2 separate regions of the Homo sapiens genome follow, and region 1 is linked to region 2. The links come from fine-mapping of genetic effects on gene expression. Tissue or cell type: whole blood. Region 2 holds a variant in brackets; the other region holds the start of a gene. All regions are shown on one strand. Distances are from middle to middle.

What was found. PIP is the estimated chance that this variant, and not a neighbour inherited with it, causes the effect.
Region 1: RAB8A starts here. The variant in region 2 is fine-mapped to the expression of RAB8A in whole blood (INTERVAL, PIP 0.97).

What each region holds. Positions count from the first base shown.
Region 1 is chr19:16,106,897-16,114,998 of GRCh38, forward strand. It overlaps RAB8A (RAB8A, member RAS oncogene family), which reads left to right and starts at 4,993. Exons shown (of 8, transcript NM_005370.5): 1 at 4,993-5,129. The coding sequence starts at 5,006. RefSeq lists a silencer at 4,376-5,035.
Region 2 is chr19:16,128,347-16,136,439 of GRCh38, forward strand. It overlaps RAB8A (RAB8A, member RAS oncogene family), which reads left to right. Exons shown (of 8, transcript NM_005370.5): 7 at 1,208-1,258; 8 at 3,866-5,888. The coding sequence ends at 3,958. All of the region lies in intron 1 of HSH2D-AS1 (HSH2D and RAB8A antisense RNA 1), which reads right to left. It also overlaps a transcript of HSH2D not described here. Among named protein-coding and RNA genes, the nearest start is that of HSH2D-AS1, 7.5 kb to the right of the region's middle. The variant G/A (reference allele first, on the strand shown) is at 4,069.

The DNA.
Region 1 (8,102 bases), 21 kb before region 2:
ATGTAATGATTCCACTGTGGCAATGGAAATGGAAGAATGCAATTCAAGAGCTATTTGTTTTTTTATTTTTTATTTTTGAGACAGAGTCTTGCTCTGTCACCCAGGCTGGAGTGCAGTGGTGCAATCTTGGCTCATTGCAACCTCCGCCTCCCGGATTCAAGCCATTCTCCTGCATCAGCCTCCTGAGTAGCTGGAATTACAGATGCCCACCACACCCGGCTAATTTTTTTAATTTTTAGGAAAAACGGGGTTTTACCATGTTACCCAGGCTGGTCTCAAATTTCTAACTCAGGTGATCCACCCACCTCGGCCTCCCAAAGTGCTGGGATTACAGGCATGAGCCACCGCGCCCGGCCCTCAAGAGCTATTTAGAACCTCCTTAAAAACCAGAATGTGACGGATGAGAGATGAAAGGCAGATGTCAAAGACAGCTTAAGTTTCACTCCTAAGGAAAATCAGGACAAGCCAGTCTGGGTATTGGCTGATGGGTTCAGTTGTGAACATGCTGAGCTAGGAGTATCTGACAAATCCAAAGGGAGATGTCCTGAACGCAGGTGGATGTGAAGAGATGGCTGGGCTAAGGATAAAACACTGAGAATGGTCAGCATGGATTAGGAGCCCCCAGAAAGTGAGAACAGAGACAGAACAACGAGGACCACAAACACTAAGGGACAGGCAGAACCCACCCCTCCCCCACCTCAAAAAGACTTCAATGGGGTCTGAGGAAAAAACAAACAAACAAAGAAGGGGAGGCAGAGGCAGAGGTGGTAGGGAGAAGAAACCAGCAAATAAAATAGGGACAGGGCCGGGCACAGTGGCTTATGCCTGTGATCCCAGCACTTTGAGGGGATCACTTGATGTCAGGAGTTCAAGACCAGCCTGGCCAACATGGTGAAACCCTGTCTCTACTAAAAATAACAAAAATTAGCCGAGCGTGGTGGCACGTGCCTGTAATCCCAGATACTCGGGAGGCTGAGGCAGAAGAATCGCTTGAACCCGGCGGGCAGAGGTTGCAGTGAGCCGAGATCATGCCACTTTACTCCGGCCTGGGTGAAAGAGCGAGACTCCATCTCAAAAAAAAAAAAAAGGGGGATAGGGGCCAAGCGTGGTGGCTCACACCTGTAATCCCAGCACTTTGGGAGGCCGAAGTGGGCAGATCACCTGAGCTCAGGAGTTCGAGACCAGCCTGGCCAATGTGGTGAAATCCCATCTCTACTAAAAATACAAAAATTAGCCAGATGTGGTGGTGGGCCCCTGTAATCCCAGCTACTTAGGAGGCTGAGACAGGAGAATCACTGGAACCCGGGAGGCAGAGGTTGCAGTGAGCTGAGATCGTGCCACTGCACTCCGGCCTAGGCAACAAAGAGTGAAACTCCATCTCAAAAAAAAAAATAATAATGGTATAGGGCCAGGCATGGTGGCTCATACCTGTGATCCCAGCTTTTTGGGAGGTGGAGGCTGGAGGATCTCTTGAGCCCAGGAGTTTGAGACCAGCCTGGGCAACATAGGGAGACCCCATTTCTACAAAAAATAAAAAAATTAGCCTGCCATAGTAGCGTGCAGATGTAGTCCCAGCTACTTGGGAGGCTGAGGTGGGAGGATGGCTTGAGCCCAGGAATTCCAGACCAGCCTGGGTAACATAGCAAGACCCCATCTCTACAAAAAATAAAAATTAGCCATGCGTGGTGGTGCATGCCAGTAGTTCCAGCTACTCTGGAGGCTGAGGTGGGAGAATCACTGGAGCCTGGGAGGCGGAGGTTGCAGTGAGTGAAATCACACCATTGCTCTCCAGCCTGGGCCACAGAACAAGACCCTGTCTCAAAAATAAGTAAATAAATGAGGATAATACCAAGAAAAAAGAATATTCAGAGGTGATCAAGACTATCAAATACCACAGAGGCTGAGGCCTGTAGGTGGTCAATGCCTCTGGTTGAAGCTTTTTTAACCAGAGCTAGATTAGCAGAAGAATGAGCTGAAGTGGAAGGGAGGAGGAAAGGCTGGGCCCTCCTTCCACAGATCCTTAAGTAAGCCTCAAGGCCCCGGAGGCCCCAGAGTGACCTAGAACAGACTGGACCATCTCTAAGAAGCAGGGAGCCCTAGTGATCAAACTGCGGCCTGGGAAGCTTGGCACTCTGAGTTCAGATACCAAATTCCCACTTTTAAGCAGGAAGGGGGAAAAGTCACTTAACCTCCTCTGGCTTCAGTTTTCTCACCATTAAACAGGAAAAAAACAATAACATCGTTTTGCTGGGCTGGTACTGGGATTAAAATTTTAAGAGTCAGGGGCCGGGTGCAGGGGCTCACGCCTGTAATCCCAGTACTTTGGGAGGTGGAGGCAGGCGGATCACGAGGTCAGGAGTTCGAGACCAGCCTGGCCAACACAGTGAAACCCCATCTCTACTAAAAATACAAAAAAATACACCACACCAGGCGTGGTGGTGGGTGCCTGGAATCCAAGCTACTTGGGAGGCTGAGGCAGGAGAATCGCCTGAACCCGGGAGGCAGAGGTTGCAGTGAGCCAAGATCGCGCCATTGCACTCCAGCCCTGGTGACCGTGAGAGACTCCATCTCAGAAAAAAAAAAAAGTCAGGGTCTTGCTCCGTCGCCCAGGCTGGAGTGCAATGGTGCGATCACAGCTCACTGCTGCCTTGACCTCCTGGGCTCAAGGGATCCTCCCACCTTAGCCTCCTGAGTAGCTGGGACTACAAGCATACACCACCATACCTGGCTAATTTTTTAAAAAAATTTTTTGTTTTTTGAGATGGAGCCTTGCTCTGTCACCCAGGCTGGAATGCAGTGACACAATCTCGGCTCACTGCAACCTCCGCCTCCCAGATTCAAGCAATTCTGGTGCCTCAGCCGCCTGAGTAGCTGGGACTACAGGCGCACATGACCACACCTGCCTAGTTTCTGTATTTTTAGCAGAGATGGTGTTTTACCATGTTGGCCAGGCTGGTCTGGAACTCCTGACCTCAGGTGATCCACCTGCCTTGGCCTCCCAAAGTGCTGGGATTACAGGTGTGAACCACCTCGCCTGGCCAAAAAACTTTTTTTTTTTTGCAGAGATGGAGGTCTTGCTATGTTGCCCAGGCTGGTCTCCACCTCCTGGCCTCCAATGAACCTCCACCTCAGCCTCCCAAAGTGCTGGGATTACAAGCGTGCACCATGACGCCCAGCTAATTTTATTTGTTGTAGAGATGGGGATCTCCCTATCTTGTCCGGGCTGGTCTTGACCTCCTAAGCTCAAGCAATCCTCCTGCCTCCCAAAGTGCTGACTCCCAAAGTGCTGGGATTACAGGCCTGAGCCACCACACCCAGCTGCAAGCCCGATTTTCCAAATGTATCTCTCCTCTGTTTTTCTCTTTCTTTTTTTTTTTTTTTTTTTTTTTGAGACGTAGTCTCATTCTGTCGCCCAGACTGGAGTGCAGTGGCGCGATCTCGGTTCACTGCAGGCTCCGCCTCCCGGGTTCACACCATTCTCCTGCCTCAGCCTCCCGAGTAGCTGGGACTACAGGCGCCCGCCACTACTCCCGGGTAATTTTTTGTGTTTTTAGTAGAGACGGGGTTTCACCGCGTTAGCCAGGATGGTCTCGATCTCCTGACCTCCTGATCCGCCCGCCTCGGCCTCCCAAAGTGCGGGATTACAGGCCTGAGCCACCGCGCCCAGCCTTTTTTTCTTTTGATAGGGTCTTGCTCTGTCGCCCAGGCCGAATTGCAGTGGGGCGATCACGGCTTACTGCACCCTCAACCTCCTGGCTTCCCAAAGCACTGGGATCACAGACGGGAGCCAACGCCCCGGCCAGTTTTTTCAACGTTGAGAGCCCTGGCCCCTAGATAGGACCCAGCATCCTCACTGCTCTAACCCCTCCCCCCCCACCATCCCCGGGCTGGCCCGGACAACCCCTAAGGTGGCCGAGGGCGGGCCCTGAGGAGGCCGGCGCGCGCTTCCGGGCACAGCTTGTGGCGGTGAAGCCGCTCAGATGGCGGAGGCCTTGGGTATCTCTAAGCAGATCGCTAGGCCGCAGACCTCGGAGCTCGTCTTGGGTCACTTTTATTTATTTTTTTTGAGACGGAGTCTCTCTCTGTCGCCCACGCTGCAGTGCAATGGCGCGATCTCGGCTCACTGCAAGCTCCGCCTCCCAGATTCAAGCAATTCTCTGCCTCAGCCTCCCGAGTGGCTGGGATTACAGGCGCCCGCCACCACGCCCGGCTAATTTTTGTATTTTTAGTAGAAACGGGGTTTCACCATCTTGGCCAGGCTGGTCTTGAACTCCTGACCTCGTGATCCACGCGCCTCGGCTTCCCAAAGTGTGGGAATTAAAGGCGTGAACCACCGCGTCCGGCTTGGGTCACTTTTCGAGTATACAGCTCCTCCTCTCTCCTTCCTCCCTAGGCCCCCACTGCCCCGACTCGCAGGCCGCAGACAAGGCTGAGAGCGCTACCTTGCTTTCCCGCGCTCGCCTCGGTGCCTACTGCGCCTGCGCGAGCTGTGAGGGCGGGACCCAGAGACACCCGCCCCAACTACTGGCGTGCGCCCTCTGCTGTCGCCTAACGGAACTCCGGGCGCGCGTGCGCACGCACCCCAAGCCACGCCCCGCCAGGCTGCCGGCGCGCGAGCGGTTGGCGCCGCTCCCTGCCTTCCCTCTCCTACAGTGGGGCGGGGCCGGGCCGCCCGAGTCGGGGGTGGAAGGCGGGGGCCACATAATGCCACGCCCCCGCCTCGTCCCCATTTGAAGCCCCGCGACTCTTCACTGCTGGTCAATCAGAGCCCGTGCTCTCCCTAGTGCCGGCCAATGGGAGGTGCGCTCGGGCTGCTTCCGGCTCCGCGCTCCGCTCGCCCCCTCCCAAGGTCTCCCCGCGACTGGCGGGACGCAGGGGCGGGCGTCGGCCGCGGTGACGCGCAGCGGGCCTGGAGCCAATAAGGGGCGGGCTCGGTGCTGATGGACGGTGCTGGTGGCCAGTGGAGAGGCGCTGGCCGCACTTCCCGTCGGGGAGAGAGTGTAATATGGCGAAGACCTACGATTACCTGTTCAAGCTGCTGCTGATCGGGGACTCGGGGGTGGGGAAGACCTGTGTCCTGTTCCGCTTCTCCGAGGACGCCTTCAACTCCACTTTTATCTCCACCATAGGTAACGGGACCGGGGAATGGCTGGGGGCGCCGGAGGCCCGGGCTGGGCGCGCCCCTGAGGGGCTGGGGCTGAGGGATCTACAGGGCTGGACGGGCCGAGGGCGCTGAGAGGGTCGAGGGGGCCTAAAGGGAGAAGAGCAGTCGCCTGCACCGCCGTTCGGGGGTTCCTGGGCCGTGGTGGGGGAGACCAGGTGCCCATTTTGCAGATAGGGAGACTGAGGCTCCGACCCTCAGCCCGCTCGTTAGGGCGTGTTATGTCTTGGGCTGGGGTCTTCGCGCCCGTCCTCTCGATCTGTCCTAGCAGCAGCCCTCGAAGCGGTTCTTTTGAGGCTCTTGCCTTACAGAAGTGGAAACTGAGTCATGGGGAATTGGCCATGGGAAAAAGACAGTGGCATCTCACCTTAATGAGCATTTACTATGTGCCAAGTGCTTCACGTGCATTTTCACACTCTTCAGTTCTTGGTGTTAAGTGCTGTTATGAGCCCGTCTGACAAGATGAGGAATCTGAGGCTCAGGGAGGGCATGGAACTTGCCCAAGGCCACACAGTCTGCACGTGGTGAGAATGGGATTTGATGGAATTTGAACCTGGCTGTGTCTCAACCCAAAACTCGAGGCTTAGCTCTCCTAGAGAGATGCCACTGCACACTCCCAGCTGATGACAAGCTCAGCTAATGCACCTTGGAGCCGGGACTCTAACCCACACCATTCCTGCTCTTTTCTCTGGAGCGTTCAGAGGTTGAGCCCCTCTCCCTGACCATGCTTCCCCTCATAAGCGTATTTTCCTCTAGAAGGAATGATAAGAAGAGTCAGGACCTTTTCCCTGCCCACCTTTCATCCTGCTCCAGGAATGACAGCAATGGCAAGTGACAGCACTGCCTGCCCTGGGACCTGTCATCCCCAAGAAGATGCAAGATAAAAGCCTCAGCGAGAAACTAAATCAGCCACTGCCACAGACAGCCTTGACTTCCCTATCAAAGGGCCCAAGACTCCAGCTGTCACTTTAGAACAGCTTTTCCTGTAGGGCCAGCCCACATTGTGGTTGAACAGAATTGGCTTGGTGCATCTCAGTTGTGATGTCCACAGAAGTGGAGCTGACCTCTCTCAGTGCCACAAAAGCAGTCCTGGCCCACAATGAAAAGGTTTGACCCAGGAGTAACACCTATTTGAGTGGCTTGTGAGCTCTGTAGCCCTGCTAGGGATGGGGAAAGTGGGGGAACGGTCACTAAGTCCAGGAGTTTATTCCGACTCAAGAAAACCTAGGGAATGGCCTTTGCTTTACTGTGTCACTTTGACAGAATCGTGTTATCTCCCTGAACCCCAAGATAATGTGCTAATTCCATTCTTGCCCTCCTCCAGGAGCTATGCTTTATTTATTTTATTTTATTTTATTTTTTGAGACGGAGTCTAGCTCTTTTGCCCAGGCTGGAATCCAGCGGCAGGATCTCGGGTCACTACAACCTCTGCCTCCCGGGTTCAAGCAATTCTCCTGCCTCAGCCTCCCTAGTAGCTGGGATTATAGGCACCCGCCACCACGTCCAGCTAATTTTTGTATTTTTAGTAAATACAGGGTTTCACTGTGTTGGTCAGGCTGGTCTCGAACTCCTGACCTTGTGATCTGCCTGCCTTGGCATCCCAAAGTGCTGGGATTACAAGCATGAGCCACCGCACCCAGCGGAGCTGTGCTTTATAAAACAGTTATATGCCAGATGTAAAATAGAGAGAATTGACTGGAAATCATTACGTCTGGTTTCCAGTTGCTGTTTGCCCTTGAATGTGCACTACCCCTCTCTGAGCCCTGCTGTCTTTAGAGCAGGAGTGACACTGTCTGCCCAGCCTAGTGCCCTGGTGGTTGAGGATTAGAATTAGACAATAAGGGGTTGTCACCACAACCAGAGGCTATCTAGAGGAAGCAAATGAATGGCTCCTGCAGTGACAGCATCCAGCCTCTGAAGACAGATGTTTCTGAATTCTTCCCCCTCCCCCACTCCAAGGCTAAACTTTAGGGTAATTCTTGTGCTCCAACCAATCAAGAAGTGGCGTTAATTCAGCCTGGGCAACATGGCAAACCCCATCTCTACAAAAAATAAAATAAAATCAGCCGGGCACAGTGGCTCACCCATGTAGACCCAGCCACTTGGGAGGCCAAGGTGGGAGGATCGATTGAGCCCAGGAGGTCAAGGTGCAGTGAGCTGTGATGGTGTCACTGCACTCCAGCCTGGGCAACAGAGCGAGACCCTGTCTTAAAAAATAATAATAAAAATAAAAGAAAGAAAGAAATGATGTTAACTGTGAGCAGACTGGCTTGCATTCACTCAGATCCCAGTTTCCCAGCCTTCCCCACAAACCCCCCTCTTTTTTTTTTTTTTTTTTTGAGACAGTCTCTCTTTGTCACCCAGTCTGGAGTGCAGTGGCGCGATCTCGGCTCACTGCAACTTCCACCTCCCAGGTTCCAGCGATTCTCCTGTCTCAGCCTCCCAAGTAGCTGGGATTACAAGCACCTGCCACCATGCCCAGCTAATTTTTGTATTTTTTTTTTTTTTTTTTTAGTAGAGATGGGGTTTCACCATGTTGGCCAGGCTGGTCTCGAACTCCTGACCTCGTGACCGCCCACCTTGGCCTCCCAAAGTGCTGGGATTACAAGCATGAGCCACCGCGCCCAGCCCAACCCCCCTCTTTAGAGTTACTTTGAGCTTTAAAGAGGCTTTCTTCCATTTGCAGATGAGGATGTGACTTGGTGAAAGTTACCTAGCAAGGTGGAGGTGGCACCTGACCCTAAGATCCCTCCCTCCCACCCCTTCATTCCCCTCCTTCCATTTGTAGCCTTCTGTCTTCTAGGAAAGTCTAATTCACCATGACCTTGAAGGTCAGACCTCATAATTCTTAGGCCTCATAAAGTTTACACTTCCTAATTAAATTTGGCATGTTAATAAAACCCAGAGGAGTGTAGGGCGGAGTGCTGCTGTGGAGCTTGGC
Region 2 (8,093 bases):
CCTGGGGAATAGGCACGGTTTTACAGGTGAGGAAACTAAGGCTCAGAAAGACCCAGCTCTGTGTTTACCCTCTCAGCCACACCACTCACCCTGGAGAGGCCCCTGTCAAAAAAGCCCAGACATAGCAGGGAGCCCTGATGGGACCTGGGCCCATGCCACCCTCCCCTCTCCACGGGGCGACCCCAGCCCTGCGGCCGATCCTGTGATGTTTCCCCATCCTAGTCATGTTTCCAAGGCGGATCTTCCATATCACTCCCGACCTAAAGTCTCTATGCTGACGTGAAGACAAAGGCTAGACTCCTTGCCTGGCGTGGAAGGCCCTCCCTCACCGGCTACAGCTGGTGTTTGCCACCCAGGGCTCAGGCCTTGCCCTCCCCAGGCCACCTGGGCTGCTCCCTTCTCCAATACGTCACTGCATTTCCCTCCTGTGTGCCCCTTTTTCTGCCTGCCAGGTTCCCTTTTCTAGTCAGGGCCTGGCCCTGGGGGCCTCTCCCCAAGAACACCTTCAGTCTCCCCTGGGCCTTCCTCCGCACCCCAAGCCACTCTCCTCTCCAGAACCTCCCACATCATGGGGATGTATGTTGGGATCACGCCTCCCGCCATCTCTGTATGTCCCCTCCTCAAGGCTGTGACAGCAGCTCAACCCTTGGCTGTGCTGGGAGATGAACCTGCTCCCGCTCCCAGCCCTGCCAGGCAAGGACTCCGAGTGAAGCTTGTTTGGCCACAGAGCTGCTTGCCTTTTTCCCTGACCATCAGAAGGGAGGCCAGAGCTGACAGAACCTAGGAGTCAGAGACAAAGAACTGGGCACTCCTAGATCCTTCTGGATTGGTCGGTTAACTGCTGGGTTCCTTTGGACAAGTCACTTGGCCTCTCTGAGCCTCAGTTTCCTCTCTGGCCAACTGAGTGTCGCCCCATCTCACAGGGCTTAGGGGAGGTGGCACATGCGTAAAGTCCCGTCAATGCTAAGGTGCTCTGCGGAAGTGAGAGTTGATGTCAGAGAGTAAGGGTGGGTGGGAGGCAGAGGGAGCCGGGGAAGGATGAGCTGGGGCCGGACAGGCCAGATGAACCCACTGCCAGAGGCGGGCATCAAAGGGCCAAATGGGAGGCCCACGCCTGGGAAGCTGTCTCACCACACCCGCTGTACACGGGCGGCTGAGGACTCAGGGTCCTGCCATCCCAAGGACTCACAATGTGCTTATTCCACAGGCATTTTTCACTCTCGCCAGAGATATCAAAGCAAAAATGGACAAAAAATTGGTGAGTGTGTGTCCTTCCGAGATCCCCGGGTGGATCTCTGGGATCCAGCCATCGTCGTTAGCAGCAGTGATATGACGTGCCCTAGATCCTGCTTTTTAGGGCCCAGCCAGACCCCATGGGACATTGCTGGGAAAGGGGGAAGAGTTTGCAGGTGTGGCTGGGGCATCAGCATCAGGCAGTGCCAGCCTGGGGACGCTGCCCAAGCAGACAAGGCCGTGCCCGGTGAATCCCCAGGCTAGCAGGGAGCACACGGCCTTTTCCATTCCACTCAAGGGCCAGAAAGACAACATGGTGTGCAAGGACAGAGAGCCATGGCTCGGAGAAAAGCTTCCTAGGTCGCTTGGGCAGGGCCAGGGCTGGTGTCTGATAACTGCTGGCTCATCGTCTTGACAAGCATGGCAGATCAAGAACCTGCCCCCGCTCCACCCCAGCCCCAGATGCTACAAGTTGTGACAGCTCTGCAACCTTCATTGTGTCCCAGGGTTCTCTGAGGCCTCCAGGGAAGTCTGCATGAATCCCTACCCATCTACCCTCTCATTCGTTTCTTGCTTTTTTTTTTTTACCACGTTAGCGATTTCCTAGTCCGCTGCGCTCAGTATCAATGGTGCTTTCTTGATGGAATCAAACACTTCCCTGTACTTTGGGGGCATTTAGTGCCTAAACACCGTAGTGACCCTTCCTCCCTCGCCCTGGTTCCAGCAACTGCCCTTTCCCGGCCATGTTACATTGGTTGTCCAATCGAGGAGCACACGGCGCTCTATTTGTGGGTTAAGTCTGGTCACTTGAGAATGCACATAAAATACAAAATGCCGTTCAAGTTTTACATCTGATGTAAGCAAATCTGTTTTGTAATTCTAAGATGCGGTGTGTTGAACAGTGAGGCATGTGATTGATTTAATAGCAGCTCTTTGGCCATTAAATTAAAATGGGAAACAGTTCATGGAAACCAGTGCACTGACCAACAATAATTTGGGATTTTCTTGCAATTTTTTTTCTTCAGTATAATGGTCAAGGTCTGATTCTTTTTTCTTTTAGTTTTCTTATTAGTTAAAAAAGAGATTTTTTTTTTAGAGTCTCACTTTGCCACCTAGGCTGGAGTGCAGTGGCACCATCACAGCTCACTGCAGCCTTCAACTCCTGGGCTCAAGCAATCCTCCCACCTCCGCCTCCCAAGTAGCTGGGGCTATAAGCACACACCACCATGCCTGGCTAATTTTTTTTCTTTTTCTTTTTTTTTGAGAAGGAGTCTCGCTCTGTTGCCCAGGCTAGAGTGCAATGGTGCAATCCCTGCTCACTGCAACCTCTGCCTCCCAGGTTCAAGCGGTTCTTCTGACTCAACCTCCCGAGTACTTGGGATTACAGGCACATGTCACCACGCCCAGCTAATTTTTGTATTTTTAGTAGAGACGAGGCTTCACCATGTTGGTCAGGCTGGTCTTGAACTCCTGACCTCAGGTGATCCACCTGCCTCGGCCTCCCAAAGTGTTGGGATTACAGGTGTGGGCCACCCCGCCTGGCCATTTTTTCTTTTTTAAGAGGCAGGATCTCACTTGTTACCCAGGCTGGACTCAAACTCCTGGGCTCAAGCAGTTCTTCTGCCTCAGCCTCCCAAAGTGCTGGGAAGGGTATGATGGGGTGGGCAGATAAGTGAGAGAGTGGTTGGAAGGGGTGGTATATAGCAGATGGAAAATAGATCTGTTTCTGAAAAACGAATTATCAGTTGTAAGAGAATTGGATGGATGGGTAGAAGATAATGGATGGATGGTTGGTTGAAAGGGAATAAATCGATGGTTGATTTGTTGGAAGGAGATGGTTGGATAGATAGATGATTGGTTTGTTGGTTGGTTGGAAGGGGATGGATGAATGGTTGGTTGGAAGGAGGTGGTTGCTTGGAAGGGGATGGATGGATGGTTGATTGGTCAGAAGGGGTGGTTAGAAGGAGATGGTTAGTTGGAAGAGGGTGGATGGGGGGAAGGAGATGGATGGGTGGATGGATGGTTGGAAAGGGATGGATGGATGGTTGGTTGGATGAGGTGGTTAGAAGGGGATGGATGGTTGGTTGGTTGGTTGGAAGGGGATGGATGGTTGGAAGAAGATGGATGGTTGGAAAGGGATGGATGAGTGGATGGTTCTTGGTTGGAAGGGATGGATGGTTGGTTGATTGGTTTGTTGGTTGGAAGCAGGTGGATAGACGGATGGAAGGGAATGGGTGAGTGGATGGATGGATGGTTGAAAGGGTATAGATGGATGGTTGGTTGGTTGGTTGGTTGGTTGGTTGGTTGGTTGGTTGGTTGGATGGTTGGAAGGGGACAGCTGGACGGACTGGCAGATGATGGATGGATGGTTTGATGGCTGATTGGTTGGTTGGATGGCTGGAATGGTAATGGATGGATGACCTGGCAGATGATGGATGGATGGTTGGATGGCTCGTTGGTTAGTTGGTTGGTTTGGCTGGTTTGATTGGTTTGGTTGTTTGGTTGGTTGGTTGGTTGGTTGGTTGGATGGTTGGATGGATGGTTAGGTGGATGGTTAGGTGGATGGCTGGTTGATTGTGAGACGTAGTGCTGATTCTCAGTGATAACCTCAGAAAACCTCTTGTGATTTCAGGAAGGCAACAGCCCCCAGGGGAGCAACCAGGGAGTCAAAATCACACCGGACCAGCAGAAGAGGAGCAGCTTTTTCCGATGTGTTCTTCTGTGAGGAACACCGCCTTACTCTGAGCCTCGCTCAGCCCAGCTGACTGTGCCTGTTCTGAGTGAGCCCCTCACTCAGCCGGGGCCCTCCCACCTCCAACGCCCCGCCCACGCCGC[G/A]GCCACCGGGCCCACGGCCACCAGAATGCAATTGAGAAATCGTTTATTTTAGTAACTGTCTGATCTTTTTCAACTTTGGAGATGGAATAAGTTAAAAATTTGCTATTTTTCCTGTAACATCTGCTGAACGGGCCCACCCACACGTTGTATATTCAGAGAGAGAGAGGGAGTCAAGGTGTGACCGTCGACCACAGCCAGTGTCAGGCCTCTGCCTCTGGGCCTTTGCTTTGTGGCCTCACTGCAACACAAAGCTCCACCAGGAGGCTGGTTCACGTCCCCTACCACGGAAGCGAGGTCCCAGAAGGCCAGCGGTGGTTCCAGGAGCAACAGCTCCCAAACCCTGAGCAAGGCAACCGATCGCCAGGACCAGGAAGCATCACCCAGGAGATTTGGCGCCCACTTCCACCTCTTCTCTCAGTTTTGGACAAGTGACAAACCATTTTGCCCCCTCACTCTTCTTTTTTAACTGTTAAACCAAAGGAAAGCACAAATGAAGGAAATCCTGTGTAAAGCATTGAGAAGGAAAGAAGCCTGGAGCAGCCTCTCCTGTCCACAGCCAGGGGTTAGGTCTGCAGGCCCGTCTGCGGTCCCCATCGAGCATCAAGGGGACGCTGTGTGTGCTGCAAGTGACCCCGAAAACAACCACAGCCGTCACATGGTCCTCCTGAAGTTGGGGCACCCTCCTCTCAGCACCAAAATGGCCCCCACTCCTTCGTGTCCTCCCGCTATCTCCAAATCGGACGTTCTTTCTAGCTGAGATTTTTATTTTTCCACATCTGTAGTGCCATGAAGCGATTCTGTCTTTGACTTCCAATGGCAAACCTGGGTGATCGGGAACAAGCACGTTGTACCCTTGGCTGGACATGGCCAAGACACAAGGCATTCCACGGCGGCAAGCTGACCGCACAGCAGTCTGGCTTGATTTTCAGCCGTCATCATTGGGTTCTGTTTTGACAGCTCTGCTGTCCCATAGGGACTGCGACTGGGACCAGGTCAACCACGCCAGGGGGGTGTCACCAGCCTTTTCTTTTTTTCTTTCTTTTTTTTTTTTTCCTCCTTAAGCTGCTGTCAATCCAAACCATTGGCATCATCGTTTCTTTTGAATTAAAACCAACATATCAGCAATAGTCTGCTCTCCCCGGGAATCTCTAACATGCTCTGTTTACATCGATAAATGCACTTAAGGAAAACAAACAAATTAAAGCTCATCTTAAAGTCCAAGGATTTTTATGTCCACATTTTCCCTGTAGGCCACACGGACATGGCCAGGTGCTGGGGGTGGGTCTGGACAAGATGGTAGAGCCCATGGATTACCCCATCGAGCGGCCACCTCAGAGGAGATGCCACCCATCATCAAAAGACTAAATTGGGAAAAGAAGCCTCCTGGCTTGGTGCAGTGGCTCACACCTGTAATCCCAGCACTCTGGGAGGCCAAGGCGGGCTGATCACTTGAGCTCAGGTGTTCGAGACCAGCCTGGCCAACATGGTGAGCCTGCGTCACCTGGCTTCTGGCACACAGCTCGGCCACTGTGTCCCTCCTGCCTCCCTGGCAGGTCCTTCTAGGGGCCCTCTCCTGGCTGGCTTTCCAGGGCATTCCTTCCACTCTATCCAGGGTCCTTCCCAAGACCACACCCAGGTCCAGTCATTCCCTAGGACTTGGCAGAGAGCTGTACTCACAGCCAAGATCACAGCAAAATCAGCAAAGGGAAAAGGCATGCAGAGTGAAGTCCAGAGGCAACCAGACAGAAGCATCCAGAATCCTCTCACAGTGGGGTCACACACCCCATGCTTAACTCCCCCAACAATGAGTTGTAACAACAGGTGTGTAATGTGTCTTTTGTGAAAGCTAGTTGGCAGTTCTGTACCCAGGTGTTTATGGAGCCAGTCACATAGGAACCCTCTACCTGGCACTTATCAGGATTCCAGACTCCTACAAAGAAAGCAGGGGTTTAGCATAAACCGCATCACTTGTACAGAAAGTGTATGAGCCACGCATGTAGGGAAGTTTTAATATCCGTAGGGAACTTTACCAACTGCAGGCCCACCTTGCCAGCAGGCCTTTCTCAGGAAGCAGCCTCAGATCTATTCATTCTTTTCTGCACACACTATGCTTTTAGATAGGCCAGTGGCTTTCAAGCTGCAAATCCAGGCCAGACCCAGGTCGGTTTCACCTGCCACTCTCTATTCCAATTTGAATGTCTCATCGGCACCGTAAGCATAACACAGCCCTGACCCTGGACTCCATCCCTGCCTTCCCCATCGTGCCCACAGCTGACCCCTCCCGAGTTGTAGCCACGACCACCTGGACCTCTGTGACCACTTCCTCATGGGTTTCAGGTCCTCACCTCTGTGTTTCAAACTATTTTCAGAGTGTCCTTACGAAACTGAAATCAGTGTCACCTCCTTGCTTAAAGCTCTCCCCAGGGGCTGGGGTGTGTGGCTTATGCCTATAATCCCAGTGCCTTGAGAGGCAGAGGCAGGGGAATAGCTTGAGGCCAGTTCAAGTTAAAGACCATCCTGGACAACATAGTGAGACCCCATCTCTAAAAAAAAAAAAAAAAAAGTACAAAAATTGGCCGGGTGCAGTGGCGCATGCCTCATCCCAGCACTTTGGGAGGCCGAGGTGGGTGGTTCACCTGAGGTCAGGAGTTCAGAGTTCAAGACCAGCCTGGCCAATATGGCAAAACCCCATCTTTACTAAAAATACAAAAATTAGGCATGGTTGCACGCGCCTGTAGTCCCAACTACTCAGGAGGCTGAGGCAGGAGAATCGCTTGAACCTGGGAGGCAGAGGTTGCAGTAAGCCGAGATTGCGCCACTGCACTCTAGCCTGGGTGACAGAGCAAGACTCCGTCTCAAAAAAATAAAAAATAGTATGGTGGCATGCACCTGTAGTCCCAGCTACTCAGGAGGCTGAGGAGGGAGGATCACTTGAGCCCAGGAGTTGGAGGCTGCAGTGAGCTGTGACCACACCACTACATTCCAGCCTGGGTGACAGAGCAAGACCCTTTCTCAAAAAAAAAACAAAAAACCTCCCCAGGTCTTCCTTGGGCTTAGGGATACAACTTACGCCCCTCACCGTGGGGCACAAGCCTCTACACGCTGCAGCCATAGCCCTGCCTACTCCTTCCTCTTTCTCTGGCTGCCCTTCCTGGCTCACTCCACTCCAATCCTCTCCTTCCTTACTCCTTCACTCCACACTCATCACTGAGAAGGCCCCAGGGCCTTTGCACTTGCCACACCCTAGTCTTGTAGTCTCCTGAAATGTGCAAAGCCCACTGTCCATCACATCATGGTTATCCAGGGCTACCTCTGCAGAGGCCTCTCCCAGTCATGCCCTTCTCTCTTCCTAGCTCATCTTCATAGCATTTATGAGAAGTTACCTGTTTTCATTGCCAACCCTGTCCCCACTCAGCCCAAAACCTCCATGAGGACAGGGACTTCTGTAGTGTGCTTGTGTGTGGCCTGAACCCATTGAATTAATGAAGGACACGCAAATGGCCTCTAGGGTGAGCACAAGGGAGGAGACATCCTCTTCCCTCAAAGAAACCAGCTTCCAGGGTTGATCCTGCAGCCTCTGCAGCCTAGGGGGCAGCTCCCCAGGCATTGCAAACTCAGTGGGTTTGGGAACCCCCAGCCACAAACTCCCTTCCCACCTGACCATGCTAGAGGCCTGCCCTGGTGGTCCCTGGCTTAGCTCCCATCAAAATCTCTGTCATCTCTATCCTTGAGCCTCCGAGCACGCACTCAGGAGGACCCTGAATCCTGATACTAAAACTCAAAAGTCACCCCCTGCCACGGATGCCTGATAAATGGCCACTTTGGGAAACTTGCTTTCTTTCCACGAAACTTTGCAGTTTCTGTCCAAAACTGCAAAATTCGGAGACAGTGACAGCCAATGGCAATGAATAGCAGATCCTGACTGGGAACCCATCCTGTGCCTGGCTTTCTTCTGAGCCCTTAATGGGTCACGGATAAGAGGGAGCTGCCTGGGCCCGAATCCCAGCACCACTCAAGACCCACGG